Linked DNA regions of Homo sapiens. The protein of the gene in region 2 purifies or fractionates together with the protein of the main gene of each other region. This does not show direct contact. Each region holds a gene or a part of one and is shown on either strand. Other genes may lie near its edges. The genes, in order: LRRFIP2 and SH2D1A.

Evidence for each region.
Region 1: the proteins of SH2D1A (region 2) and LRRFIP2 purify together in Homo sapiens (affinity purification with mass spectrometry; one large-scale study listed by BioGRID and IntAct). This does not show direct contact.

The regions. Positions count from the first base shown.
Region 1 is NC_000003.12:37,059,470-37,063,295, forward strand, and holds part of LRRFIP2 (leucine-rich repeat flightless-interacting protein 2), read right to left. Parts: intron 1-3,826. UniProt on the Homo sapiens protein: May function as activator of the canonical Wnt signaling pathway, in association with DVL3, upstream of CTNNB1/beta-catenin.
Region 2 is NC_000023.11:124,363,532-124,367,357, reverse strand, and holds part of SH2D1A (SH2 domain-containing protein 1A), read right to left. Parts: intron 1,598-3,826; coding exon 1,534-1,597; intron 1-1,533.

The DNA.
Region 1 (3,826 bases), on a different chromosome or scaffold from region 2:
CTTACTTAGAAAACATCCTGTATGTAAAAATAATTGGGGCTGGGCACGGTGGCTCACGCCTGTAATCCCAGCACTTTGGGAAGCTGAGGCGGGCGGATCACAAGGTCAAGAGATCGAGGCCATCCTGGCCAACATGGTGAAACCCCATCTCTACTAAAACTACAAAAATTAGTGGGGCATGGTGGCACGCGCATGTAGTCCCAACTACTCCAGAGGCTGAGGCAGGAGAATCATTTGAACCTGGTAGGTGGAGGTTGCAGTGAGTGGAGATCACATCACTGCACTCCAGCCTGGTGACAGAGCGAGACTCTGTCTCAAAAAAAAAAAAAATAATAATAATAATAATTGGATACATAGAGATGGCTTCCCCAGCTGTCCTTAACTCCACCAACAGGGGTCAAAGGGAGGCCTCTGCACTAAGATTAAGTTTGCCACTCCCCAATGGGAAAAGGGTAAGCTCTATATTGGGACTAACTCTATACTTCCCAGGCACCTCTGCCCTTTCAACACACAGGGTCACCATCATTAGCTGCCTTGAGGGAACCAGGACAAATCTCAGTATCTCCATCATTCCTATTTATGTGCATCTCACAAAGGGTCATATCCTTCCTCTGCAGTCTTCCTCACAAGGGTCTGTACGACCACTAACCTTCATCTCCTAACCTTTCCCAATGCCTGAAACTTTTCCACTGGGCCCTCTAGAATTATCAGTCCATCATCAGCAAACACCCTCTGTCCTCAGTCTTTTCTGAGCATCCCCCCTTTACCCTCGTGCTCTGATAACCCTCTCCTGCTGCTTCTGCAGCTCTCTCAAACACTGTTTTTGTTTTGTTTTGTTTTGTTTTGTTTGTTTGTTTGAGACAGGGTCTCGCTCTGTGGCCCAGACTGGAGTGCAGTGGCATGATCTCAGCTCACTGCAACCTCCGCCTCCCGGGTTCAAGCGATTTTCCTGCCTCAGCCCCCCGAGTAGCTGGGATTCCAGGTGCATGCCACCACGTCCAATTTTTGTATTTTTAGTAGATGGGGTTTCGTCATGTTGGCCAGGCTGGTCTTGAACTCCTGACCTCAAGTCATCCACCCACCTTGGCCTCCCCAAGTGCTGGGATTACAGACATGAGCCACCATGCCCGGCCCTTTTTTTTTTTGTACTTCCACAGCTTCCTACCACTGAATCTAGAAATGGAATAGGTGTCCTCTTGCTTTCCTTGCTGGTATTTTCCCTCCATCTTCCCTAAAAGTCCCAGGTCTTAATCTCGTCTCTTCAAATTATATACACTAACTACTTATCATTGCCAAAATCCCATTCCTTCATCACCATTTATTAAATAGCTCCCAACTTGCACTCCCTCTAGACTATTCCTGTCTTAATTTTTGGCAATTTCAATGTACATCTAAGTAGAGGATCTCCCTTACAAATGATCTCTCAATTTCTGGTATATCTCCTCTTACGGTTTGGATGTCTGTCCCCTCCAAATCTCATGTTGAAATGTATTCCCCAGTGCTGAAGGTGGGGCCTGGCAGGAGGTATCTGGGTCATGGGGCAGATCCCTCATGAATAGCTTTGCACCATTCCCTTGGTGATGAGTGAGTTCTCGCTCTGGTAGTTCACACAAGATCTGGTTGTTTAAGAGTGTATGTTACCTCCCCACTCTCTCTGGCTTCCGCTCGAGATATGACGTGCCTGCTGCCCCTTCACCTTCCGCCGTGATGAGAAGTTTCCTGAGGCTGGCTGGGCGCGGTGGCTCATGCCTGTAATCCCAGCACTTTGGGAGGACGAGGTGGGTGGATCACCTAAGGTCAGGAGTTCAAGACCAGCCTGGCCTGAGGCCTCAGGAAACTGAGCTCAGAAGCTGAGCAGATGCTGACAACATACTTCCTCTACAGCTTGCAGAACCATGAGCCAGTTTAAACCTCTTTTCTTTTTCTTTTTCTTTTTTCCTTTTTTTTTTTTTTGAGACAAAGTCTCACTCTGCCACCCAAGGCTGGAGTGCAGTGGCGCAATCTTGGCTCACTGCAGCCTCCACCTCCCTCCTGCCTCAGCTTCCCAAGTAGCTGGGACTACAGGCACCCACCACCATGCCCGGCTAATTTTTGTATATTTTTAGTAGAGTTGGGGTTTCACCATGTTGGCCAGGCTGGTCTCAACTCCTGACCTCAACCACCTGCCTCAGCCTCCAAAAGTGCTGGGATTACAGGCATGAGCTGCTGTGCCCAGTCAAACATCTTTTCTTTATAAATTACCCAGCCTCAGGTATTCCTTTATAGCGAAGCAAAAAATGGACTAACCCACCTCCCTTCCAAGGATCTTGCTATCTATCCCTTCTTGCCCTCAGCTACTCACTCCCACAGTCATATACCAGATCTCATCATTAGACAATTGTAATCCCTACACAATTTAGTTCCATGTATCCTCTCTCTAACCACTATTCCTCATCTTTCCAGGTCATTCTCTCTAGACCCGAATTCCAACAACCCTTCAACCACACTGGTACCACTAATCTACAGATTACATCTTCTTTCTACTATACCTTGATGTGTTCCTGAATATCTCCCGAATCCTCTTCATCCAGTTTAATTTCAAGGTCCATCATTATAATCATTTTCTTACATACTCCCTCACCTCTCCTGCCCCATTAATACTGTCCTAGTAAAATCTAGCTCTCTACCCACTCCATGCCTGCCCCTATGCTGCTGTAAGTAGCCAGAGAAACACATATAATAAATGCATTCACACAAACCTTCTAACATATCATATAATATTGTCTGATGTCTTCCTACTAGAATGCCTCTCAGGCAGGAATTTTTTTTTTCTAAACTAATTTATTCACTGAAATATCCCAGTGCCTAGAATAGTGCATGTTAAATAGTAGAATCTCACTCAACATTTGTTGAATGACTGAATAGGAGTTCCAAAATAGAGAACACAGCATATGGGAGGGGAAAAAAATCAGTAACAAAATCATTCAAGAAATTTTCCCAGAACTAAAGGATGGGAGCTCCTAGAATTGACAGGGGCCCAGCATCACACATGAAAACTTCAAATCACATGACTATCTTCAAATTACACCAGAATGCTAGAGAGAAAGAGAATAGGATACAAGCTTCCACAAAGAGGAGAAAAATAGATCACAAATCAGAAAAGATCAGAACTCAAAATGTTCATGAAAACTCAACAGCCATGCTCGAAGTCACAGCACAATGAAGAAATGTCCTTTTAAAAAATCTTAAGGAGAACCATGGCAACTCAGGATTCTCTACCCAGCCAAACTATTTTAATCAAGTGAGAGGGTAGAATGAAGACATCTTCAGGCCTGCAAGGTCATGAAAAATTAACAATCCACAAACCCTCTTCTCAGGAAGCTACTGGAAGATGTACCAAAATAAGAGAATAAATAAGGAGAAAGGCATGAGACACCGGAAAAAGGGAACCCAACCTAAATCACATGCAAAGAAAATCTCCAGATGCCAATGAAGGGTGACCACATCTATGTACCGAGAGGGCAAGTCACTAGTTTAGAAAGGGACAAGTCAGATGCACCAAGATTCAACAAACTGGAACTGAAATAACACCAGATGCATCTGAAAATACTGAGTGGGATTAATCTACTCTTGGAGATTCTGTGGCTAAATTGATGATAGAAAACCAAGCAAATACAAAGAAAAACCATAACATTAACTTTAGAGGAAACTAATAGTTCTGAGGGAGATGATCCTAGAATGCAACCTGGCTCCACTGTGTGAGTAGTGTTTAGAGGGTCCTAATGACACAAGCAGGCTGGAATTACACTGTTCCTTTATTAGGAGGATATAAGAGTGGAAAATAAGT
Region 2 (3,826 bases):
TGAGCTCTGAGAATATACACTAGTTTAATTTTCACCTTAGAAAAGCACTGCTAAGAAGGTAAATTTAGTAGATAGAAAAAAATGCAATATGCATTTCAAAAATTAAAGAATTTTTTAAACTATTTTCTATTTGCGGATGTCATGCCAATCTTCTGCTCTCTTGGTGCAGAAAATTACAATATTATTACATAAACAACGTCAGATCAGACAACAGGATGAGGGGGCATTTGTGTTCAATAAGCCCTCTCTTCTTTAACATGATCACAAGCATGTAACAATCTCATATGATGTTATACTCAAAATGCAGGAAAACAAGTTGAAAAACAAAGTTGTTAAACCCTAAGCATTTAAGATCCTTTCCTTACATAATATTCTTCAGCAGCTGAAGGGTATTTCTCTGGGGAGAAGAGCTATTTCTGGCGAAATAATATACAAACGTGTGTGTGTGTGTGTGTGTGTGTGTGTGTGTGTGTGTGTGTGTTTGTCAGTATATTTTACACATAACTTTCTTCATAATAAAGTTTAATTTCTTATTCAATCATCTCTGCAGTGATACAGAGAATTTTTTAAATAAACAGGTATAAATAGTTTCAATTAGAAATGGTATAACTTTATCTTTAGTTAGTATTATAGTTTTAATGATCCTTACATAATACAGCAAAAGTGTGTTTGAAAACTTGGCCTAATTCATCTCAGTGGTTCAAAACATTTGTGGTCTGTAATTTATACTTTCCAACTTACTGATAAATCAGTAAACGTGAGAGCTATTTTAACTTCTTGAAGTCTAGACTTCAGAAAATTTTAAATGCACAGATTGAGTTATTAATAGGAGTTGTGGCAATTTTCAGGAGTTCACTTTTTTGAGGGCTCACTGTGTGCCAGGCCTTGTGGCAAACAGCTTCTTTATGTGTGTTATCTTATTTACTTTTCAAATTGAGCCTTGTGCATAAGGGAGGATTCTTAGGCTCCGTTTACAAATGAAGAAACTGGCTCACAGAAAAGTCAAGTAACCTGCCCAAGATCATAGACCTATCAGAGAGGAGGGGAGACCAGACCTGGAACCCAGATTCACCTGTTGACAAAGCCTAGTTTCTTCCACTCATAACTGTTTAATTTCAAGTTATAACTTCCCAAGTATATTGTAGTCTCTTAGAAAATAAGCATCATGTTTTTTAATCTCCCACGATACCAATACTCATATTGGTATCATTTGGTAAATAATTGTTCATTTAATTATTTTACCTACTTTTGATATGCTAAGATTTCACATAGTCACTAAAAGTTTGACATAATTCTTCAACTTTTTTATCTTTCTCCCAAAGTCATACAACTCTGCAAAATGATGGCTAAACAGGACTGGGACCAAAATTCTCTAAAGCTTTCTTAATGATCCATGAACAATTTTGGATTGGAGCTTTAGAGATTTAAACCTTATGAATACTTAATAATGTATAATTTGCTCTTTTATAAAACCAGCCTAAATTTCAAATACCTCCTTGACACCCCCAGAAGCAAAAATAAATACAACTATACCTCAGCACTCCAAGAACCTGTTTCTGTCTGGGACACTCGGTATGTATAAATGTAACCGTGATACCTGTGAAAGAATAAACTTCCATTACTGAAAGATTCCAAAAGAACAATGGATACTTTAAATTTGAGCTTAATATTACATATAAATGTCACATATACTAGGACACACGTATATGGTGTCATTGCATTCATAGGAAGTAAAGCATAGTGAATCTAACTTGTCTCCATATTGTATCTGCCCAACCACAGTTTCCAGTGAGATTTCTTTATCTTTTCATTTTTTGAAATATGGAAATTCATGCTCCTAAAGATTTGTCAAGTTGAGAGACCATTTGGACAGAAAGAAACTACAACAGGGACCTGTTGTAATTGATAAAACCATGAATTATTAGATAGTTTTAACAAACAATAGACTTATTTTTAAGTACATATCGAAACTTAAGGTGAAAACATTTCACTGGGATAATACACTATCAGGCCCACATAAATAATTATTAATATTAATAATATTTGTTATAAATATAATGGCAATAGTATAAGGATATAATACTATAAATTGAATATAACTATATTTTTATAAAATTACTATTATAATGTATAGCAATATAATATTGCCACAGTCATGCATCACTTACCAAGGGGGATACATTATGAGAAGTGCATCATTAGGTGATTTCGTTGTTGTGCAAACATCATAGACTGTACTTACACAAACCTATATGGTATACCACCTAGGCTATGTGGTATAGCCTATTACTCCAGGCTACAAACCTGTACAGCATGTTACTGTACAGAATACTGTATGCAATTGTAACATAATGGTATTTGTGTATCTAAACCTATCTAAACATAGAAAAGGCACAGTAAAATATAGTATAAAAGATAAAGAATGCTATACCTGTTGAGAGTACTTACCATGAATGGAGCTTGCAGGACTGGAAATTGCTCTGGGTGAGTCAATGAGTGAGTGGTGAGTGAATGTGAAGGCCTAGGACATTACACTACTAGAATGTTATGAACACTGTAAACTTAGGCTACACTAAATTTATTTTAAAATATTTATATTTCCCAGATCACGAGGTCAGGAGATCGAGACCATCCTGGTTAACACAACGAAACCCCATCTCTACTAAAAATACAAAAACTTAGCCAGGCATGGTGGCACGCACCTGTAGTCCCAGCTACTTGGGAGGCTGAGGCACTGAGGCAGGAGAATCGCTTGAACTCAGGAGGCGGAGGTTGCAGTGAGACGAGATCACGCCACTGCACTCCAGCCTGGGTGACGGAGCGAGATTGTCTCAAAAAAAAAAAACTGTATCGCTTCAATAATAAATTAATCTTAGCTTCAACTCTTTTACTTTATAAACTTGTAAATTTTTTTAAACTTTTTGACTCTTTTATAACACTTCGCTTAAAACACAAACACATTGTACAGCTGTACAAAACTGTTTTTCTTTATATCCTTATTCCATAAGCTTTTCTCTGTTTCAAAATTTTTATTTTATGTATTCTTTGCTATTTAAACTTTTTTGTTAAAAACTAAAACACAAATACGCACATTAGCCTAGGCCTACAGAGAGGGTCAGGATCATCAGTATCACTGTCTTCCACCTCCACATCTTATCCCACTGCAGGATCTTCAGGTGCAGTCACACACACGGAGCTGTCATCTCCTATGATATTCATATTCCAGAATGCCTTCTGGAATACCTCCTGAGGGACCTGCCCGAGGCTGTTTTACAGCTAACTTTTTTTTATATAAGTAGGAGTAGATTTTAAAATAATGATAAAATGTATAGTACAGTAAATACATAAACCAGTAACACAGTAATTTGTTATCATTATCAAGTATTGTGTACTGTATGTAATTGTCTGTGCTATACATTTTTTTCTTTTTCTTTTTCTTTCTTTTTTTTTTTTTTTTTTTTTTTTTTGAGATAGAGTCTCGCTCTGTTGCCCAGGCTGGAGTGCAGTGGTGCAATCTCAGCTCACTGCAACCTCCGCCTCCCGGGTTCAAGCAATTCTGTTTCAGCCTCCCGAGTAGCTGAGGCTACAGGTGCATGCCACCATGGCTGGCTAATTTTTGTATTTTTAGTAGAGACAGAATTTCACCATATTGGTCAGGCTGGTCTTGAACTCCTGACCTCAGGTGATCCACCCACCTCAGCCTCCCACAGTGCTGGGATTATAGGTGCGAGCCATCACACCTGGCCTGTGCTATACTATTATACAGCTGACAGCACAGTCGGTTTGTTTATACCAGTGTCATCACAAATACATAAGTAATTCATTG